Linked DNA regions of Homo sapiens. The protein of the gene in region 1 interacts with the protein of each later gene in a pairwise test. Each region holds a gene or a part of one and is shown in the gene's direction. Other genes may lie near its edges. The genes, in order: NR4A3 and EFEMP1.

Evidence for each region.
Region 2: the proteins of NR4A3 (region 1) and EFEMP1 interact in binary tests that used the Homo sapiens proteins (3 or more experiments, as listed by UniProt).

The regions. Positions count from the first base shown.
Region 1 is NC_000009.12:99,829,789-99,840,852, forward strand, and holds part of NR4A3 (nuclear receptor subfamily 4 group A member 3), read left to right. Parts: intron 1-2,900; coding exon 2,901-3,030; intron 3,031-3,493; coding exon 3,494-3,666; coding exon of another isoform or gene 3,667-3,744; exon of another isoform or gene 3,745-4,513; intron 4,514-11,064. UniProt on the Homo sapiens protein: Transcriptional activator that binds to regulatory elements in promoter regions in a cell- and response element (target)-specific manner.
Region 2 is NC_000002.12:55,919,748-55,931,437, reverse strand, and holds the start of EFEMP1 (EGF-containing fibulin-like extracellular matrix protein 1 precursor), read left to right. Parts: upstream 1-7,655; 5' UTR 7,656-7,727; intron 7,728-8,498; 5' UTR 8,499-8,539; intron 8,540-8,990; 5' UTR 8,991-8,997; coding exon 8,998-9,078; intron 9,079-11,690. UniProt on the Homo sapiens protein: Binds EGFR, the EGF receptor, inducing EGFR autophosphorylation and the activation of downstream signaling pathways. May play a role in cell adhesion and migration. May function as a negative regulator of chondrocyte differentiation.

The DNA.
Region 1 (11,064 bases):
CATAGGCCTAACGGAGAAATTTTACAGTGGGAGGGCCATCAGCCTCCCCCATATTTTACCCACGAGGAAGCTGAGGCCTGGAGCGGTGAAGCCTTATGCAGGCTGTAAGCAGTGATTTAACTGCCCATGAGATGTTTCCAGCTGATTTGTCCTGACTCCTGAGTTCAGTGTTATTTCTGCCACTTAGGGAAAAGACCTTGCTCTTTTGCTGTGCTACCTTTTGCTGTTGACTCCCAGACTTTATCAGACACTTACTTCTGTGCCATCCTTCTCACTCCTCACCCCACTGGCCATTATTTCAGTCATTTACAAACCCACACAAATTATTCCTTATCCTCTAGTGCTGGACAGGGTAGAAAGAAAGAGAAAGCAGGATGCTGACTGGGTAACTTGGATTTGGGAGGCCAATAGGATATATCTGGGAGTACACCAGAATTAGTGAGAGAAGACTCAAATAGAAGACCTTGATCTTCCACCTTCCAATTGTATCATGTTGGGCATGACACTTCATTCTAAGCCTGTTTCCCTATCAATGAATAAAACTCAGAGAAGAGCTGTGTATTCAATGAGATAAAAATATATATGAAAGTGCTTTATAATCTTTAAAGAGCTGTACAGATAGTTCATTATTAAACAAAAGCTATAAAGTTTTGTAAAAATGCACATTTGTGGAGGGATATACATAGCAACAAGCAACAATTATTTTTGATCTTCAGATTGTAAATATCACTACCTGAATTCTGCAGAGAAATGAGAAAATGTTTGGGGAAAGACTGCAATACGTTAAGTGCCCTACAGATATTTGGGATTATGATGTTTTAAATGCAGAATCTTGGTCATTTTATTTTATTTTTTAGCCACTGAGTTTGGCCATTTTTTGTTTTAACTACTCAAGCTTTATCAGAGCTACTTTCAAGTAACTGCATTCCTTTAGCAGATTTGATTTTTACAGGATTTCAGTGGAAAATGCTGAAGGACAGTGAAACTGGCAGCAGAAAGGGGGAAAGAAAAAAACAAGAATTATGAATAATCTACAAATATAATTATCTCTAAATAATGGAGAGTTGACCAAAATACCAGAGTGGTAATACATTCTGAGTCCAGAAATGTCAATTAAGTGTTCCCCAACAGCTTCTCTTTTCTGCAGCAATCCCTCGAAAACAAATCTATACTTGAAAGGGTGGGGGCAAGATGGGGGAGAATCACCCCACAGAACTGTTAATTAAGGGAACCGGAGCAGGTTTTACCCAGTGGCTTTCTACCATTAAATTGAGTTCTTTAAAAATGTGACATGAAGTGCAGTTAATGATAGGAATTCGGTGATTGAACCATAATGATCTCTCCCTGTCCTTAAACACAAATGTAGGGAAGGCTTCAGGTTATTGGGAAAATGTATACCTGAAGCAAAATGCCATCAGCACTCAAATTGGCATAAAGCCTTGAGGATGATGGCAAGAAATAGAGTGTTAGAAATTACTGCATGTTCAATGAAAGCTTTATTCAGGAAACACACGTTTCCTACCCTTACAGACTGCTAAGAATTTAAATGCTGGAACCTCAGAAGTATGCCTGTGTTTCAGAATTTTGCATTTTAAACTAAAATCACCTACTATGGTGGGAGAAACATGTCTTAGACTTGACATAGGTTGGCTTTGTTATATTAAGTTTTATATAAGCAATCTAGAAACTATCCCCTAAAATGAAATTAAAAGGTAACAGGGTAAAACTGAAACATGGGGGTTGAGAATGACTGGAAGTAAATGTTAAAAAGCAAATCTAGATGTTTGAACACAAAATAGATCATAAAGCCCAAGTTACCTGGATTTATTTTCTTTTTTTATTAATGCAGCCCAGGCTTCCCAAATAAATTTCAACTTTCTGCTCTATTTGGAGTTGTATAGATCCAGGTAATTTCTGAACAGTTTCACCCTAAGTGGTAAAAATACGTTCATTTGCACAAATGTTTTCAATTTAAAAAGCAAGCATTTGTTTAAATTTGGAGGACGAAATATGTTTATTTCTCCATGTGTCATTTCCAAATTATATGGATTCTGAAAAATACAACATCATTTTTCTATCCAACCTTAAGTTTTATGATTTTTTTTACAATATGGTTACTGTGTCTATGTCAATAGACATTTATGAAATGACCTATTAATAGGAATTTTCACTGAAAATATATGGCTGTCATATATCTTTCTTTGTCTCATTTTTCGTTTGTACCTTGGGGTTTTTTGTTTTCTTCCTTGGATATAATAATGATTTGTAATAACTACTTTTAAGATTTTGCTTTGAAAAATCAGGAATGGACTGTTTATCATATATGGTCTTTAAAGATAAAATAAGCTATACAGGCTGATTAAGTTAGTTTTTTTGCATTAAAACATTATTTCCTATATGTTTTAATTAGAAAAATCCTGATTTTGGTTTTTATGATTTCATCTCTGTTGGGTAACAAAGCCAGTTACTGTGATATTTGACTTACAATAGTGATAGCAAACAAAGTACATCCCAGATAATTTTGATTTTATTTTAATAAGGTCAGCAATAATCAGGGGAGTGGAACAAGTAGAAAATTGTTCCCAAAGGGATATTAAAAGTGGAGATAATCTAATTCTCCAAGGTATGATATGTTGACCTGGTAATTTCAGATATGATTTTATCATTCAGAGTTGGGTGTCTCCTGAGACTTGCTTTAGAACAATCCGAGATGATTTTCATTGTCAGCAGCTAACACTAATAAAATTGTTTTTCCTGCAGGCTAGCGTTTTAGGAAATTAAATTTATCGAATTATACGAATTGCACTGTCGCTTTTCACATTGTAATTAAAATACATCTTGTCAGGTCCTACCTCTTTCCAGAAACTATCAGTTGACTATCTTGTATTATATTTTCTCAGAGAACAGTGCAGAAAAATGCAAAATATGTTTGCCTGGCAAATAAAAACTGCCCAGTAGACAAGAGACGTCGAAACCGATGTCAGTACTGTCGATTTCAGAAGTGTCTCAGTGTTGGAATGGTAAAAGAAGGTATGGATATAATGCTTTTTACCCAGTTTGCTTATACATATTATCAGAAATCAGTGAAAAAAAGCTAATATTTACATTGGGATGGTGAATTTTTCTAGTTCCTTTTTCCTTTCAACATTTTATTTTTATCATATATATCTACATTTTAAAATAACTGAGGACTATTTATTCTAATTTCTCAAAATTAACAGAGGACTTGTATACATACATCTTTGTTCTATTTAAGAAGGAGACTTTTAGGGCTAATTCATTACCAAATGTAAATATCGGTGGCTTTTATGCTGCTTGTTTCAACTCTCATGAAATCATTGTGTGAATATTATTCCAAACTTATTACCACTTTTAAATGGTTGGTCTCATTAATGATTGCTCAACTGTAATGTGTTTTTATTCCTTTTTGCGATTTATGGTCGTTCATTCCATAATCTTTGAAGATTGTTTTCTTTGTCTCTTTTGGCATCAGTTGTCCGTACAGATAGTCTGAAAGGGAGGAGAGGTCGTCTGCCTTCCAAACCAAAGAGCCCATTACAACAGGAACCTTCTCAGCCCTCTCCACCTTCTCCTCCAATCTGCATGATGAATGCCCTTGTCCGAGCTTTAACAGACTCAACACCCAGAGATCTTGATTATTCCAGAGTAAGTTTTATGATTTCCTGCTTTCAAATGAATGATCAGGGTCTCTATTTATGGCTACTAGTAATAAGAGTTGATTGAATGATTTTGTGTCTGGCACCATGTTAGACAGTTTTCATACTTTTTCTATATTTCTCGCTTCATTTAGCAATTCAGTGCATCCATTGCAGCAAATAATTTTTGCCTTATTGAATCTCTAAATGCCTTAACAAGTGACCCTGACAGTGCTGCACCTGTCATACACATTGTTGCAGGATTCCTGGTGGTTGTGCCAATGAAAATCTGCACAGACAAACTACAATTTGTAGATTTATCTCGTGATCTAGACAAAGTGACTACTGTTTTTTTTCATATTGTGTTCAAACCATCTGGGTGAGCCTCAAGTTATTACTAAGCAGTTTATCCAATTGCATCAGCATTGATTGACCTGCTGCTTATTCAGAGGGATTAGACCATTGGTGGAGAGAAGCGAGCTCTGGCTGTGACATCAGTTGTCAGGAGAACTGGGATGGAACGCCACCTCTGCTACTTCCTGCCTGTGTCACCTGGTTCCTGCTTTTGGCTCTCTCCTGCCTACAGTGGAAATGGCTACAATATTTAACCTCAGAGGGGTGTTCTGAACACCAGTCACACAAGAATGATGGTTGTGAAAATGTTTTTAAGACCATAAATGACGATTGGTGTTGTTATAGTTAAGTCAACCAAAACATATCAACATTTTTATTTCATATGGGATATAGTAAAATCCCATCAGTCTGAACCCTGCAAATTCCTCAAAATTTGGATAACACAGAGAAGAACCATGAGAAAGGATTTCCTGAGCAAATGAATAAACAGCTCTGTAAGGCAATTTCTTTAAAGGACTTAGAAAACTAAACTTCTAGCAAAACAGGGTCTCAATGAAGAGGGAAGAGAAGGAAAAAAAATCACAATTATTGAGCAGTTTCTATATGCTAGACATTGTGGTACATTATCTCATTTAATCCTTTAAACCACCATGAATTGTAGGAATCATTATCCCTCCTACTTGAAGGAAAACAAAAACAAAAACAAAAACAAAAAACCTTAGAAACACAGCTTGCACTCAGATAAAGAAATACCAGTCCAGAGGCCCCCAGTCGGTTGATCTGTCTTGGTGGCTACTACCAAACTGCCCTCCCCAGGTCTAATCAGTGTTTCAAGCTTCTGGCTGAATGGCTGGCAAACAGTGTGAGTGTGTCCCTGCTATGTGCCCTTCTCCTTAGGTTGCAGTGTTGATAGAAATGATTAGTGTACCTGCTGTGATCCTCTTTCCCTCTTCCCCACCCTCATTATAGGCTGCGAAGCCTCCTCTCTGCACCTGATAACAAAACGTCATATGAGAAGCATGGTAGATCCTTAGCATCAAAGGTTGAGGACTCTTATTCTGATTATAAGTAGTGGCTCTTGACTACAATCAAGTCTCAAATAATAGTGTAAGAGAATAAAGCAGAATAATAAGACTAAGTTAACAGTTTAGGCTTCTTTGGAATCATGCGGGCCTAGATGAAAATCCCAACACTGTCCTTTACTAGCTAAGTGACCTTGAGCAACTGATTACACCCTTTGATGCCTCAGTTTTCTCCTCTGTGTTGTGGGGTAATAGTAATATCTACTTCCTGGGGTTGTTCGTGAAGATTAATTAACAATTATACTTGTCAAAGCTTTAGCACAGTGCCCTGTATGTTATTTCCTTGGCCAAACTTTCTTACTCTGCCATTTGTTCAATGTCCTAATGAGCATGAACACTACATTAGGTATCATGCAGAACACTCTAAAGATAAGTATTATGATCTCTATTTCACAGATAAGGAAATTTAAACTGGGAGAGGCTAAAGGGCTGACTTGCCCAAGGTCACTGAACTAATATGCAGCAGAGACAGAATTAGGAGCCAAGTATATTAAGAGCCAAGTGTATTGAACCTAAAATCTGGGCTCCTAAATACCAAGCTTCACTGCCTCTCTGGTTCCAGTGAGAGTGGGTGCTAGAAAAGTATTCAGGAATGAAGAGTTCTCCTCCCAGAAGCACCCTGGCCTCTCCAAAGGCAGTTCATCTGAATTAGTGAAGCTTCTTAGCACTGCCTAGGCTAAGGCTATAGCACACAATCTGACATTGCTCCAGGGCATTTGAAAGCACAATAGATGGTCAGTACAGATAATTTAGGCCTCAAAAGTAATTTTTTGGCCCCAAATTATCCAATTATCAGTCTACATGGCCTAATTAGTCATTCAATGGCAAACCTTTCCCAGCACTTTGAGTTGTCCCAGCTGGGAACTGTCCCCACACTGAAAAATCAATCTAGTGTGTTTGCTTGCCTCTGCACCATTCAGTCTGTTAGTCTAGAGTCATCATCCTCATCAACAAACATTTATCCAATTTAATTGTTAGCTTTGTCCAAAATAGCAGATTGACCATGCCAGAGCCTGGGTCACATTGGTACTACCTTTGGGGCCTGGCTCAATTTTGCAAAGCATATTTATTTTAATTGCATTATTTTGGAATCAGGTTGAACCTCATAACTTGGATTCCCCTGCTTTTAGATGGCATTACACAATTATCAAAAATTGGACCCAAATCAACTAAATTAAAAGACTTTTTAAAAATACAGTGAGTTTTCATCAAAAACTTGGATGAAAGCATAAAAGCATGCTGATCACATTTGCAAATGACAGAAAGCTGGGAGGGATCGCTAATATGATGGATGTCAGTATCAACATTCAGAGTGATCTCGACAGGTTGGAACAGGAAGGGCTGAAACCATCACAAAGAAAGTTAACAAAAATAAATCTGAAGCTCAGCATTTAGAATTTAAACAAATGGGAGAGCCTTGGCAAAGTGGTTCATGTTAAGAAGATCTGGGGAGTTTATTCCATATACACTCAAAATGAACCAACAAAGAACGTGTGTGGTAGAAGGGAGGGATGCCACATTACCTTCAGCTGCAGTAGTAGGAGTATGGGCAGACCCAAGTTGATGATGGTTGCATGGACTCTGTCCTGTCAGACTGTTCTTCGTGAATTGAGTCCAGTTCTAAGCTGGGATTTACTGTTTCTGGGAACTTGTAATGGATGATTGGGGGAAACAGAAATATGTAGGCAAGAAGGGAAAAGATTTGGTGAAATTGGGTCACTCTTTTGCCCTATGGCAAAAAGAACTATTCTCCCAAAGACAGATCTAGAGAGAGGAGGGGGGCCTCTTCCCGCTCACTTGTCTGATAACAAGTGTTGGCCATACTAGCTGCTGTGGAAGTGTGAGTTCATCAACACAGGGAGTAATTAAGGTAGTTTTAGTTTTAGCTTTTTGGGGAACCCCCATACTGTTTTCCATAATGGCTATACTAATTTACATTCCCATCAGCAGTATATGAGTGCTCCCCTTTCTCTACATTCTCACCAGCATTTATTTTTTGTCTTTTTAATAATAATCATTCTAACTGGGGTGAGATGATATGTCCTTGTGGTTTGGATTTGCATCTTCCTGTTGATTTGTGATGTTGAGCATTTTTAAACATACCTGTTGGCTATTTCTATGTCTTGTTTTGAAAAATGTCTATTTAGGTTTTTTATCTATTTTTAAATAGATTTTTTTTCTGCTATTGAGTTGAATTCCTTATATATTCTGGTTATTAATCCCTTGTCGGATGGATAGTTTGCAAAATTTTCTCCCATTCTGTAGTATTTCACTTTTTAAATTGTTTCCTTTGCTGACCATCACATATATTCTTACATAATTTCACTTAAGACTCCAGCTCTGTGTGGTATTATTTATGGTTTGAGTAATTTCCTTAATAATGTCATTCACTGAAATTCAGTTTTCATAATACCTTCCTTCTTAAAGTTTTACATATACAAATTCATAAAACTGGAGTGACCTTGGGATCATCTAATCCAAGTCCCATATTTTCAGAAGAGTAAATTAAGGTTTAAAGGGGTTAACTGGCTTGCCTAATGTCGGTGACAGAGTAGAGGACAAAATCCAGATCTCATCACTCAATAGGTTTCTATTTCATCATACTGTCACTTCTATTTAATGACAATTTATTATATTTTTGAACATATAAACTTTATTAAATATTTTTAAATTACAATAATAGTAATATATATCCATTGGGGTTTTTTTTTAAAGGCAACCATTTACAAGTGGATAAAATGAAAAATGAAAGTCTCTACTTCATTTATAGCTGCCCGATCCCACTCCTTAGCCGTGTTTTAGTGTGTATCCATAATCTATTACATTATAAATAAGAATTTGCCCTGTCAAGTTTGAGAGTTGATTTGAGCCCTACAATTTATTAAAGATGCTAGCTTCCCCCAGTGAGTCAGGTCAATAGAGAAAGGAGGAAATGTGTTGCCAGCCCAGTATGTTTTAATCTTCATGTACTAGCATGTGTTCCTTTAAGGTAGTAAGTGAGCAGTTTTCTCCATTTGTGGGAATGGGAGGTGGAGGGGTTTTGTTCCAAGTCACAGAGGAAATGAATGTTTTAGAGGCCAGAAAGAGCTCCTGAGTTCTGTGAAGCATTCCTGGCTCTGGGACCTTCAGTTCTCCTTTGGGCCAAACTTCTCTCCCTCAAAAGTGAGCTCAGATCATTGTACATCAGTGCAGTCAAAACATGTCACGTTTGATTTGTCTCTCCTCAAAATGTTTCTGTTCTCTGCACCACAGTTGCTTTTAATTTAGCAATACAAGTATGTATAGATACTGGGATTAGCTTCAGAGCCTGCATAATTACTAATGAGAAAACATACTTAGTGTCCTCATTAGTTGATCATTTCAAGTATTTTTCAGCATACTAGGATGTTTTCTGGTAATCAGTGCCACTTAACGGAGTAACAGACTTGCAAATACGAGAGGTGCTGCTCAGATAAAACCAGGCACCAGCAAATGGCATTTAAATGTGTTCACAAGATAGCCTATGAAACAATGTGGCTTAAGACACGTTAGAACTACAAGGTAAACAGAATGAAGCTGCAAAAAGAGTGGTTTCATGAAGCATCTCAGAAGACCCTCTCAAATTGTTACCAATTCACCAGATGATTTCACGCCAGTTCCTGCCCCTCTGTGGGCCAGTTTCCTGATCCAAATGGTAAAGAGATTAAGCTAAATTCATTCCCATTATCTCTCCAGGCTTCTCATTCCCTGATATTCTGACCATAATATTAATAACTGCTATAGTTCCACTATGAGTACAGGTCAGCATTTCCTAAAACATGGTGCCCAGACTGCTCCTACGAGAAAGAGGTGGGGTGTTTGCTTTAAAATGCAGATTCCCAGGCCATACCCACTCAGACATACTGAATCAGAACTGGGAAGAAGGAGAGGCAGGCAAAAATCTGTACTTTAAAAAGTGCCATTGGATGATTCTTTGGCACACTAAGGTTTGAGAACCATCGATATAGTTTATAATAACAACTCAATTTTACCTTGAATTTTCCAGCTTTTCCTGGGGTTGAGAAGGGATGAGCAATAGAGATATAAATTTTCCTGAAAGCAATCAATTCATTTAACAAATACTTACTGAATGGCTGCTAGGTAGTAGGCACTGTTCCAGGGCAATGGACACGTTGCTGAACAAGACAAAGCCCTTATCCACATGAACCTTACATACCTGTAAAGGAGAAAAAGAGTAAACAAATATACAATTGCAGTGATGTCATTGGTGGGAGGAGAGGAATTTTTTGCTTTTTGCTTTTTGGAGTGGGGGCATAGAGTTAGATCAGAAAAGAAAAAATTGGGGGGAAAATATATTCATTGCCAATTTTTAAAATGTCACTTTTTAAAGTGTAAGAACCTAAGAATATGTATACATAGTTTGACTTATACAATGATCACATCTAAAATTTTTAGAGCTATAGTTGAGAAAAGTAACATTTTAAGGGGAGAAAAACGTGTCCTTAGCGTAGTCTACATATTTAGCCAGGGCTGAAAGTGAGATAGAGTAAATATTAGATTCCACTCTGCTATTAAAGCCTCACATCACTAATTTTTGAGGGGTGGTGTTTTCCATGGGTCTCACTTAATTTCCACACAAATATCTCATTTGGGGCCTGGGCTATTGCTGAAGTCTGACTTGTATAGCTGCGTTACTGCCATATGAAACACACAGACCCATTTTAGTTTACATAATATCCATTGCTGTTGTTTGCAGCTCTAGATTCCCATTCTAGGTGCTTTAGAGAAACCTTCCTTAGGCATTGGCTGTCAGTAAATGTAATACTGTGTCTTTGACTAGTGAGAAAGCCAGAGTTCTGACAGATCAATAACCCCTATAGGGTGGAAAAAAATTAGTATAAACAGGAAAAAAGTTCATTTAAAAAAATCTTTTTGCATTTGACCTATGTTCGATTGGCATGATCAGTAAGCAAATATTTCTAGATTTTCTTTGTCAAACCCCAAACCTACTTAGCCCAGAGACAGAGCAATCAATGTAGGGCAGCAGAGACACAGAGCTGGGAGTCCAGTCCTTCCAACTCTAGGACCAGTATTCATTGGGTGAGGTTTTCCTAAACTGGTAGGCCAGGCAGAGAAAAAATCTAAAACGTTTTGTTCCGTTCCTTTACATCTTATGTCCAATAGAGGAGATTTTTCTTTTCCTCCAGCATTGGATGCTGACCCTCCAGTCACCCCCAAGTTACTGGTGGCTCAGACTGAATTCACTTTGGCTCCAAAATTCTGAGACTTGGACCAAAACCACTGCAGGTGAAGCCCAGAGGATCTGGCTGGAGCCTGGCAGGCTGGGCCGGCTGGCTTTCCTTCTTGCTGGGCTCCATCAGAGAAAAGTACACACACAGGGTGGGCAGGGACTTCACTTCCCTGTGTGCAGAAGGCATGAAATGTGAGCCCAGCAGGGGCAGAAGCCTGCAGAGGACCCTGGGTGAAAGCTACACACTTTGATGGATTCTGAACAAATATTGGAAGCAGAGAGATTGTTGAGTTGTGAGCCATGGATTCAGGGGAGTCAGTGCAGGAGGTAGCTGTCAGATCCATTCTCAGGGGAAACTATTCATTCTTTAGTCTTTTTCTCTCTCCCACTATTTTAAAACAAAATAATGCTGAATCAGTGTCAAGTTCCAGGCAATAACATCATACCTGGTGTGATTTAGCAATATTTAGAATCATTTAATGCAAGAGCCAGAAGTAATCTTAGGGATCAGGTAGTCCACTTTATTCCTGTTCCAGAGACTGAAACTGACTCAGAGAGGTTAAATGCCTTGTCTAGAACTGCACAGCAAGTCAGTGCAGAGCCTGGATGAGGACCCCATGACCTGCTGCTTGGTCCAACACACTTTCCTTTACTCCCACTCATTTGGGAGTTTCACAAGTAGCTCCCTCAGCTTTTGAAAGGGAGGATCTGCCCTGAATTTCATTCTGCTCTTGGAGAGCCT
Region 2 (11,690 bases), on another chromosome or scaffold:
AGGGCTGGAAACATTCCTCAGTCAAATGTGAGTTGGATGGATGGATGGATGATGATAATGAAGATTAATTATGTCAAATCAACAAAGGAGGCTGTAAATAAAGAGATAGGGCAGGGAAGTGGGGAAGTGGAATGCTCCAAAAATGAGGAGTTAAGACTTGTGGTCCTACTCTTGGTTCTGCCACTTACTAGTGTTAACTTGGATAAGTCGTCTAAGCTTTAAATTTCATGAGGGAGTTGGAGAAAATGGCTGCCAAGATCTCCTTTTTGTTCTTTTTCTTTTTAATCATAAAACGAAATTCACCAATTTTAAAATCAGATTGAAAAGTTCTTTCTGATCCCAGCATTTTTCCAAATGAATTGAACAAATTCAAGTGTTTTATAACTCTTGGCCCTTTTAAAAATTAACTATAATTGAAGCATCTTCTTGAACAGAGTTCTTTACAAAACACACACACACACACACACACACACACACACACACACACACACTTAAATCCAAGCAATTTCCTTGCAATATCTCTCTGTGGATATATAAACTTTTAACCTCTTACCTTGAATAGAGTTTCTACATTTGCCCTATTTAGTCAACAATAAAAGTCAAATATGCCATTTTTTATAAATTATCTGCTAGCAGCATATTATAAATTTCAAGCAGAAAAGTTTGTGGGTTATTTTTTAAGCCTTTCCACATTCTACAGTGAGAGAAGTTAGAAGTTAATGCTAGTTTATCAAAATAATTTATGCTTTAAAGTTCCTTGAAGAGCAGAGAGAAAATAATAACATCCATTGCATTTTTAGGCTTTGGTCTCAGCAGTTCCACTGGTATAGGATATGACATACTAGAGAAAAAAAGTAACAAATCAGTCTTATTAATGCTATATATTTTTTAATTCTAAATGTCGGCAAATACAAAATATCTATGATTTTGTTTAAACCATTGTTCTCTAAAAATTAATTTAAATATTTTCAAAGATATTTTAAAATCTGTTTTGTTATCTGTAATCAGCATCAAGATATAAGATTAACTGTTCACAAAAAGACAGATGAAGAGCATTTCTGTACTTTTCATCCACTAAGTGAAGGAAAAAATAATTCAAGTAAGGTAAAATAAAGTTGGAAAGTAGAAAAAAGAAAATTCTAAAAATCAACAAAATATTATGAAAATGTTCCAAATTGACAAAAGTGGAGTGATGATCCAGTTCTTTAAATTACATATTGAAATAAAATTACTAATTTTCATGGGTATTATTTCTAATTTCATGCTCCATAATACAATCATCCTGAAACCCCATCAGCCTTGATTAGCCAAATGAAGTTTCCGGATATCTAAGTTTGAAAGGAGAGAGTTGGGAACTTGTAGCTGAAAACAACAATTAAAAAAAAAACAGCTTCACATCTGTGTTCGCATCTGAAGTTGCTCTGTAAGATCTGATAACTTGTTAGAAAGCAATCTTTTTTGCAAGGCAGTAGATTTACATCATACATTTTTCTCTCTCCAAGGAAATTCTAATTACTGGTTCCAATCATTTCTGATTGATTTGCTTTTTATTCTTCCAAGGTATTCTCTGCTTTATGATGAAATCAAGCCTTCAATAAAATTCCAAAAATTTTAGAACAATTTACAAGCTCCAGATGACTGAAAGTTTTCTCATGTCCGTTTGGCATTCAGAAAGAGAGTTTCACCAAGTATATTCTGAAGAAGAATACATCTGGCACTCACTAAAACAAAGAACTCACCAGTGACATACTTGAGGCAAATTAATGTTGCGTAAATGCAAATTTGCCAATATTCTTTGAGGCCAAAGCTGCAATCCAACCTCCATATATTTCAATGAGTCCTCTTCTAATGCGCAGGCCACCAGTCACATGAGTGAATGTTTGGGGCATATTTTAGCAATCAATTTAATAACTACACATTATCTTCTATGTACAAATTTAAAATTGCTTATGTGTAATGTGGATTTTTTAAAGAAAAGACTTAGCATCTGTTGAAGACTTGCCTAAGTTCATGTCTTCTCTTGGCCTGATGCAAACTCCAAATCATTGACAAAAAGACAACATAGAAACAAAGAATTTTAGCCCTAGAAAAAAAATTAAAAACCATCTCTTTCAAAGACTTGTTTCAGTAATATAAAGCATATCAGAAATCCAAATGTGTATTCATCATGGGAATATTTTCATGGATAATGTAAATTCTGCTATTCAAAAATACTGAATTTTTATGCATCAATAAGAAAGCAGTCCAAGAAAATAAATAATTTAATCAACATTATTCTTGCAAGAGTCCATTATAGGGCTATCAGTAGTGAATGATCCATTTTTATCAATTCAGTAAGAATACTAGTGTTTTTAAATGAATTCTTTCTGTAAGAAGGAGAGGGTTTTTTCCATCAATTCTGGTTCCAGCCTTGGCTTCTCCTTCAGCAGTTTCCTAGGAGAATATACTTTCACAAATCAAGTGGACCCAAATGTTGCCTGGTTTGGATACATGGCCAGAAACTGTGGGCTAATTCTGTGATTCATATCTTGGTCTCTAGCATGCCAGGGATGCCCACTGTGGGTCCCCGTTGAACACAGTTACTCTACACTTTGATTAAGCACTCTTAAGACTCAGCCACACTGATAGTACATGTTTGATTAAGACACACATTCCAAAGGATACAGAGACATAGATCATAGTGCTCAGTGTGTGATCATCAACATCTGTGAATCTCTTCTAAAATTATGAGTTTGTCACCACATACATCTTCAAATCTTCCTTTTTTTTTTTTGAAACAGTCTTGCTCCGTCACCCAGGCTGGAGTGCAGTGGCGTGATCTTGGCTCACTGCAACCTCCTGAGTAGCTGGAATTACAGGCGCGCACCACCATGCCCAGCTAATTTTTGTATTTTTAGTAGAGAAGGGGTTTTGCTGTGTTGACCAGGCTGGTTTTGAACTCCTGGCCTTAAGTGAATCACCTGCCTCAGCCTCCCAAAATGCTGGGATTACAAGTGTGAACCACCGTGCCCAGCCCAAATCTTTAAAATCTCAGATTCCTCTGAGCTCAGAGCAATTTTAGGAAGGTGAATTTACTGCAATTTCCACTTGCATTCTGCTAAATCCATGCATCCAGTTTGAATCCATAAAGTTGGACTCCATTAAATAAATCATCCAGCAGGGTGCAGTGGCTCCCGCCTGTAATCCCAGCACTTTGGGATGCCGAGGCAGGTGGATCACAAGGTCAGGAGATCGAGACCATCCTGCCCAACATGGTGAAATCCTGTCTCCACTAAAAATACAAAAATTAGCCAGGTGTGGTGGTGTGCGCCTGTATTCCCAGCTACTCAGGAGGCTGAGGCAGAAGAATTGCTTGAGCCCAGGAGGCGGAGGTTGCACTGAGCCAAGATAGTGCCACTGCACTCCAGCCTGGGTGACAGAGGGAGACTCCATTTCAAAAAAAAAAAAAAAAAATTATCAAAATTTAAAATGTTTGCTCTCAAGAGACAGCATTAACAAATTGGAAAGACAAGACAAAGACTAGAAAGAATGTTCGAAAAATGTAAATCTGAAGAGGACTTGCAGGAAGACTATTTTTAAAAACTCTTACAACTAATAAGACCAAAAAATAAAGAAATGAACACAAATTTGAAATAAAATATATTGATGGACAATAAGCATACGAAAAGCAAAATTCAACATCACTGGACATCAGAGAAATGTAAAATAAAACCACAGTGAAATACCACTTACACACCCACCAGAATGGCTAACATTGTAAATTACTGACAATACCAGAAGTTGGCAAGGATTTCAGGCAAATTGAATCTCACATATTGCTGGTAAGAACATAAAATAACACACTCACTTTATAAAACAGTTTGACACTTTCTTATACTGTTAAACATACCCCTACCATATGACAGCAATTTCACTCCTAAGCGTTTATCTAAAAGAAAACATATCCCAGCAAAGACTTAGAAGTGAATGTCCGTAACAGATTTATTCATAAACAATCCAAGTATCTATTAAGATGTAAACAAACAAATCAGGGTATATACATACAATGGAATACTACTCAGCAATAAAAAGGAATGTGTTTCTCATACACCTAATAACAAGGATGCATCTCAAGCAACATGCTGAGTGAAGGAAGTCAGACCCGAAAGAGTATTTACTCTATGATTTCATTCATATGAACTCCCACTGCAAAAAGGCTGCAGGAGAACAAGGTTGTAAACAAGGAGACCAATTAGGAGGATGTTGCAATAATACAGTTGGAAAATGGTGGTGGCTTAGACCAGAGTGGTTGCAAAAGAGGTGATGAGAAGTGGTTCCATTCTGGATATATCATGAAGGTGAAGCCAACAGAATTTCCTGAAGGATAGAATGCAGGATATCTCAGAAAAAGAGAAATCAAGGATGACTCCATGGTCCTGAATCTGAGCAAATAGAAAGATGAAACTGCTTTAACTGAGATGGTGAAGGTGGGTGGAGTAGGTTGGGGGATGATAACAGCAGTTGTGTTCAGTTTGAAACATCCATTAGATGTCCAAATGAAGATAGCAAGTTGGCAGCTGGATATATAGGAACAGTTCCAGGCTGGAGATATAAATTTGAGAGTTTTCACCCCATTTTTCTGGAAAAGTGGCTGGGAACAGGTAGAAAGAGTTTAAGAGAAACAGGAAAAACCATGTGCACAGATCTTCTTACTGTACAAAAAGTAAAGATCCATTTAAAAAAAATCTGGAGGTCATTAATGACTTGGGGGAAAACACTAGAATTTTGATAGTAAAAATATTTGATACAATTACCAAAACTCTGTATACTCAAGTAAGGTTTAGGGAGGGTTGTACACCTCCCCTCTGATCTTGTCCAATACTGTGTGGCTTGCTACCAAACTGGCAATGTCTAGGTAACCCACACTGGATACCCCAGAGATAAAGAGAGCAGCTTCCACCTGATAACCTCCCTCTCCTGCAGTCGCTACCACCCTCCCACCTTGAGTCAGCAGGAAAGGAAAGGAGCTTTTCCTCTCCTCCTGAGCTCTGCCTCCTGCTCAAGGACAGAGTCAAAGTTTTAACCCCTTCAGTTTGTAAGTTTTCTCATTCATGAAATTGTATTTGGCCATTTGCTTCTTAGAAGACAGCTGCCTTGGAAGCAAGCTATTAGTATGACTTTAGAGTTGGAGCCTTCAGAGGTAACTGCAATTTGTGTGGTATGATTTGATAAAAACAGAAAAAAAGATTTTTCTCTCCAGATTCCTGAAATTCCACTATGAAAGGTGAAAGTGAAATGCCCAACTTTGAATGAGCAGTATTGGAGATTTCACTAAGTCAATAAGTGAAGAAAAGAGAAGCTATAGATGAAAAAAGAAACCCATAAAAAGGGAGACTTTTTATTATATATTGACAAATTATAGTTGTATATATTAATAGGGTACAAGGTGTTATGATTTTTTAATACAATGTGTAATAATTAAACCAAGCTAATTAATATATCCATCACCTCAAATATTTGACATTTTTTGTGATGAGAACATTTGAAATTTACTCTCTTAGTGATAATGAAATATACAGTACTCAATTATCAGCTTTATTCACGACACCGTGCAATTGAACTTTAAAAAAATCAAACTTTTCCTCTCTTTTTTTTTTAGATGGAGTCTCACTCTGTCACTCAGAGGGATGATCTCAGCTCACTGCAACCTCTGCCTTCCGGGGTTCAAGCGATCATCCTGCCTCAGCCTCCCGAGTAGCTGGGATTACAGGCACGTGTCTAATTTTTGTATTTTTAGTAGAGATGGGGTTTCTCCATGTTGGCCAGGCTGGTCTTGAACTCCTGACCTCAGGTGATCTGCCCACCTTGGCTGCCCAAAGTGCTGGGATTACAGGCATGAGCCACTGCACCCAACCCTTATTCATCCTATCTAATTGAGGCTTACACTCTTTGACTGTTATCTCTCCATTCCCTGCAACCCTAGCCTCTGGTAACCACCATTCTACTCTCTGCTTCTATGAGTTCAATTGTTTTAAGTTACTTTCAGATACTTGAGAACATGTGGTATTTGTGTTTCTACATTTGGCTTATTTCACTGTGCATAATGTTTTCCACTTCCATCCATGGTGTCACAAATGACAGAATTTCTTTTTTAAGGCTAAATAGTATTCCACACATACACACAGACACATAAAATGGAATACTATTCTCTTTTAAATTTTGTATGCCTAATAATTCATGGTTAAAGGACAAGATAATAACTATTTTTGAGTATCCCGCTGTGGAGACACGATCTCCTTTGATCCTTGCAGCAATGTGTAAGGTAAGTGGCATCATCTTCCTTCTATTAATGGTAGAACTGAAGATCAAAGAGAGTGTCTAACTTGCTTAGGGCTACATAGCCAAGTGGTGAAGCTAAACTCAGTCTAGGCTTACTTGATAGTACACTAACATTAAATGTCTAGGAGTAAATATCTAAAACAAACTGTAAGTCTTCTCTATTTACCATACAAATTATTCAAGTGAACTGCCATTTTTGCCTGGCTTGAAAGATACTTTTCAGAAGAATGGGCTCATATACACATGCACGCGCGCACACACACACACACAATGGAATACTATTTAGCCTTAAAAACGCATATATATCTAAAATATATGTGTGTACATATTTTATATATATATGTGTTTATATATATAATATATATTATATTTGTATACACACACACATATATGCCACATTTTCTTTATCCATTTATCCCTTGATGGACACTTAGGTTGATTCCATATCTTGGCAATTGTGAATAGTGCTGCAATAAACATGAAAGTACAGACGTCTCTTCAACACACTGATTTCAAATCTTCCCAGTAAATACCCAGAAATGAGATTGCTGGATCATATGATAATTCTACTTTCAGTTTTTTGAGAAACCTCCATACAATTTTCCATCATGTTTGTACTAATTTACATTCCACCAACAGCATACAAGCATTCCCTTTTCTCCATTCTTGCCAACACTTGTTATCATAAAGGGAGGTTTGAGAGACCATAAAACAAACCCCACCTCACAATTTTGTTAGTGCAAGTTCTATTTGGCCTATTCCCAACACTAAGCACACAGTAGGTGGCAAATATTTGTTGAATGGATGAATTCTCATTTTTCTCCATTTGTGGAAGCAGACACCTCCTCAAAAAAAAAAAAAAATCCGAAAGAAAAGGTAAAGGAAACAGTTCTATGAATGGGGGTTAATTTACTCTCCTAGCATTCACTTATTGGGAAAAAAAGTAACAGCAGTTTCTAGAACCCTCTGGTCTCTGAGGGAGATGCTGTGTTCCCCTCCTCAGAGAAGAAGAAAACGCACTAGAGAGTGGGAGCATCCCCAAGGCTGAAGCGCATCCAGGACATCACATGTCAACGTGTCCTCTCTGGCGTGGGGTCCCCGCGAGTCTGGGAAACGAGGAGCTGGCAAGGGAGGGCAAGCGGGGGCGGCAAAGAGGGCCCCTGGAGCAGGGGGCGCGGACCTCGCTGCGCTGCGCGCTCTACCGCCGGGCTCGCAACGCTGGGCTCAGCGCTCGCGCCTCCCTCAGCTCTCTCCTCCGCCCCCCTTCGCCCTCCCCCTTTCCCTCCCTTTCTCCTCCTCCTCCTGCCGCCGCGGCCGCTGCCGGACTTCGCCAGATCAGACCCACGGGGCTGCCCTCCCCTGCGCACTCCCCTCGCTGCCCGGGCCCGGAGCGCAGCGCGGCCGCACAGGTAGGAGCCCCCAACGGGGGGTCGCCCCGAGCGAGCCCAGTACTCACTGGGCCGCGCGCGGGAGAGTGAGGTGGGGTGAGCTGAGGGGTGTTGAGTACCCGAGAACTGCCCTGGACTGTGCAGGGTGTCTCGGGCAGAGAGGGAGGTGGAGGTGTGCAGCCTCGGAATGCGATCTGTCAGCAAGTGCGAGTACTCGGGTGACATCTGTTGGGATGGGCATGTGTGTGCGCGCCGACAACCAGCCGGCAGGGCTTTGCCCATAAACGTGGTTTTGAAAGTTTAGGGGACCAGTGTGCGAGATTTAAGCCGCACCTGGATTCCATAGGAGCTGGTTAGAAGCTGGGACGCTGAGCAGCTCCAGGGGACCGCCGCGTTAGCTTGCTGTTAAGAAAGGGGACCTCATCTCCCTGCCGGGCCAGGCCGCCCGCCCGAAACTGGTACCTTGGGCTGCGGTGCGATCCCTGGTTCCGGTCCTAGGCAGCCTGAAACCGAAGGTAGCGTGTCGGGGACCCAGACTGATAAGACAAAAGAGAATCAGTCGCTTTGGGCTGCCCCTCCACACAACCTGGGACTTTTAAACAAAGCTGTGCGCAGAGAAAGGCGTGGAAATGCCACTTTGAGAGTTTGTGCTGGGGGATGTGAGAAGCTCTGAGACATGTGAGAAGGTCTAGTATTCTACTAGAACTGGAAGATTGCTCTCCGAGTTTTGTTTTGTTATTTTGTTTAAAAAATAAAAAGCTTGAGGCCAAGGCAATTCATATTGGCTCACAGGTATTTTTGCTGTGCTGTGCAAGGAACTCTGCTAGCTCAAGGTGAGTATACTGGGAAAGCCTTAACGTTCTAGAGAACAGAGTTTTGCAGCCCCACCTCCATCCCCCGGGGTGTGGGACTGGGGGGCAGGAAATGCACCGTCCCCTTTGAAATGGATTACTGTTTTTTCCTTTCGACCCCCTCTTTCTGCAGCCTGCTTTGTAGGTGCAGTATAAAATGCACGCTGAATGTCTTTTGTATGTAAACAGCGTAGCAGGATGGAGTAACGTGAAATGCAATTCTACAGCAGTTTTTACGTCTTTGCTGCCTCGTTCGTTGGCTACCGAGAAGGTTCAGGAGGGGGAGGGGAGATGAGAAAGCAGATTGGAAGTTGAGTATGGTGGAGCCTCAGCCTCTCCCACCCTCCTTTCCTCGCTTGTGCTCACTGCTAAAGTTTTGTTACTTTCCCCGCAGCAGATACTAAACATTAGTTTGTCCTGTATTTTCTTTGAGATTCACAATGTTGAAAGCCCTTTTCCTAACTATGCTGACTCTGGCGCTGGTCAAGTCACAGGACACCGAAGAAACCATCACGTACACGGTAAGGGGTGATGGAATTTGAAATAAGTACGGTTCAGCGGGATTCTGTGACAAAAAAAGACTTTACACACCCCTGCCAGTGTATTTGGGCTATACTCTGCTGAGGGTGATAAATTAAACAACACTTCATTCATGCTTCATATCTAAGATTCGTTGTAAATTGCCCCCTTGATCCTTTCAAAAGTTCATTGGGCTCACCACCTAAGATAGGAACCAACATGTAATCATTTGTGCAGGGCTAAAAATGGGATCCGTTCAAAAACTAAAACCAAAGAAAGTTACATGTTTCCAAAACATTCAACAAATTAATGGGTGTAAGGAACTGGAAAACCTGGACTCCTACCACATGCAGATAAAACCAATACGTGCAGAATAAGACTCAAGTCAAGTAAGAACGTTAAACACCATAAAGACACATGGCCTTCTTTGTGTACATGACATGCATTCTCAAGTAAGTGGCCTTTATTGAATTTATAAAGGCTATATATTCATTCTTTTTGTATAACTTGATAATTCTAATAAATAAAGGCAGACAACAGTTTATGTGTTACCAGGATGCATATTGGCTAAAGTGGTTTTAAAACGTAATGTGTGCAACTCCGTTTTGCATTTTCTAATTAGCGTCTCTGATATTTCCAAGTAATATTTGATTAGTTAGTTGCATAGGTGTAACCAATGTTTAATAAAATATTAAAAAGATCACCTGACCCCTCCCACTGCTACAAATAGTTGTGGTGAGAACAGAGAAGGACAGTACTGACTTCACTTCTGGTGAGTTTGTTTGCACCTCTGTTCTGTGTTTTCTTGTCTTTAATCAGTGTTAGGCAAATGACATTTGTCCTGGATTGGAATATGAAAAGCACATTTTTCTACTGCTCCCAGTTTAAAATTAAGTAATCCTACTCGAAAGAATGTGAAAAATTTTTGAAAAGAAAACTCTTAAAAATGAACTAATGTCAATTACTGATAATAAACATTATCTCACTTTTTGGTACCACATTATCCCTAGAATGTTAGTATTCATCTGGCAAATGTTCCTTTCTGTTGTTCAGATCCACTATAAATAAAATAGCTTAATACAAATATTTTGTTAACTTCATGTTAAATGCAGTTGCTTCCTCTGCTGAAGATAAATTAAGCAAGAAAAATGAAGGCATGTGCTGTTTATCTTAAAATGAAAATGTTTTGTTATTCAGACTAAACTTACTGCCTTCTCAGGGAGCTAAAATTAAATTCACTACCCACTTTTATAATCATCTCATAAAAGATTTTACTTCTTTTCCAGTTGCTTATCTTCTATGCCCTTCCCTTTGCTAATCACCTAAATCTTCCTCATTTTTACCAGAGAAGGTTCCCTGTGGCTTAAACATGATAGTTTTAAGACCACTAACTAGGGTTCATTATTATTGTAACAAATTTTCCAGATATGTTACCCTTTTGTGCTAAGATTGGGCCTATTCTCCTTTAAATTTTGTATGCCTAATAATTCATGGTTAAAGGACAAGATAATAACTATTTCTGAGTATCCCGCTGTGGAGACACGATCTCCTTTGATCCTTGCGGCAATGTGTAAGGTAAGTGGCATCATCTTCCTTCCACTAATGGTAGAACTGAAGATCAGAGAGAGTGTCTAACTTGCTTAGGGCTACATAGCCAAGTGGTGAAGCTAAACTCAGTCTAGGCTTACTTAATAGTACACTGACATTAAATGTCTAGAAGTAAATACCTAAAACAAATTGCAAGTCTTCTCTATTTACCATACAAATTATTCAAGTGAACTGCCATTTTTGCCTGGCTTGAAAGATACTTTTCAGAAGAATGGGCTCGTATCCACATAATAGCCTCATAGTCCTCTTCCATATTAAAGATGGTGTCCATTCAGCTGTTTACTCAACAACTATCTGCATAAGCAATTCTCATCACTATTAAAAGAATTTGTTTGTTTACTAAGAAAATTCAGTCTCCTCTTGGAGAATTTAGCCTGGGAAGACAGTGTTGAAAACTACAAAGTTCCTAAGCAAGGACAAATGATACTATTATACAGATTATACAAATTGCCAAGGAAATAGAAAAGCAAGGAGGTGATTAATGTTGGTGCCAGCATATTAGAGGAGACAGAACTCTGTGCTGGTTCTTGAAGGAAGTGATGACCTTGGTTGGATTGATCTAGAAAGGCTGAAGAGGCACCTGAGTCAGAGAGTGGCATAATCAAAAGCTAGAGCTGAAAGCACCTGAGACCAATCCAGGTGGTGATAAGGTCAGATCAGCTGGAACTGGGTAGTGGGAAGAACCCAGAGATGGTGATGATGAGAGATCTGCAGGTCACTGTGAGGTCTCAGAGAGAGGAGCAACATAACCAAGAGCACAAGAAAGATCATGGGGTCTGTATGCAGCATGTAGAGATGCGGGGCCTTGCCTACTCATGGGCCAGCAAAAGCCTTTCTTAGTAGACATGGTAGAAATGGACACAAAGTCAGCAGAGATGGAAGGAAAATAAGTGGAGCATTCAGCACTGATGTTAAAGTTGGAATCCTGGGTTTCGAAAAAGGTAGTGGTACCTTTAACACTGTTTGGGAAACAAGAAAAAAATTAGTCTGAGAGACAAAGTGAATT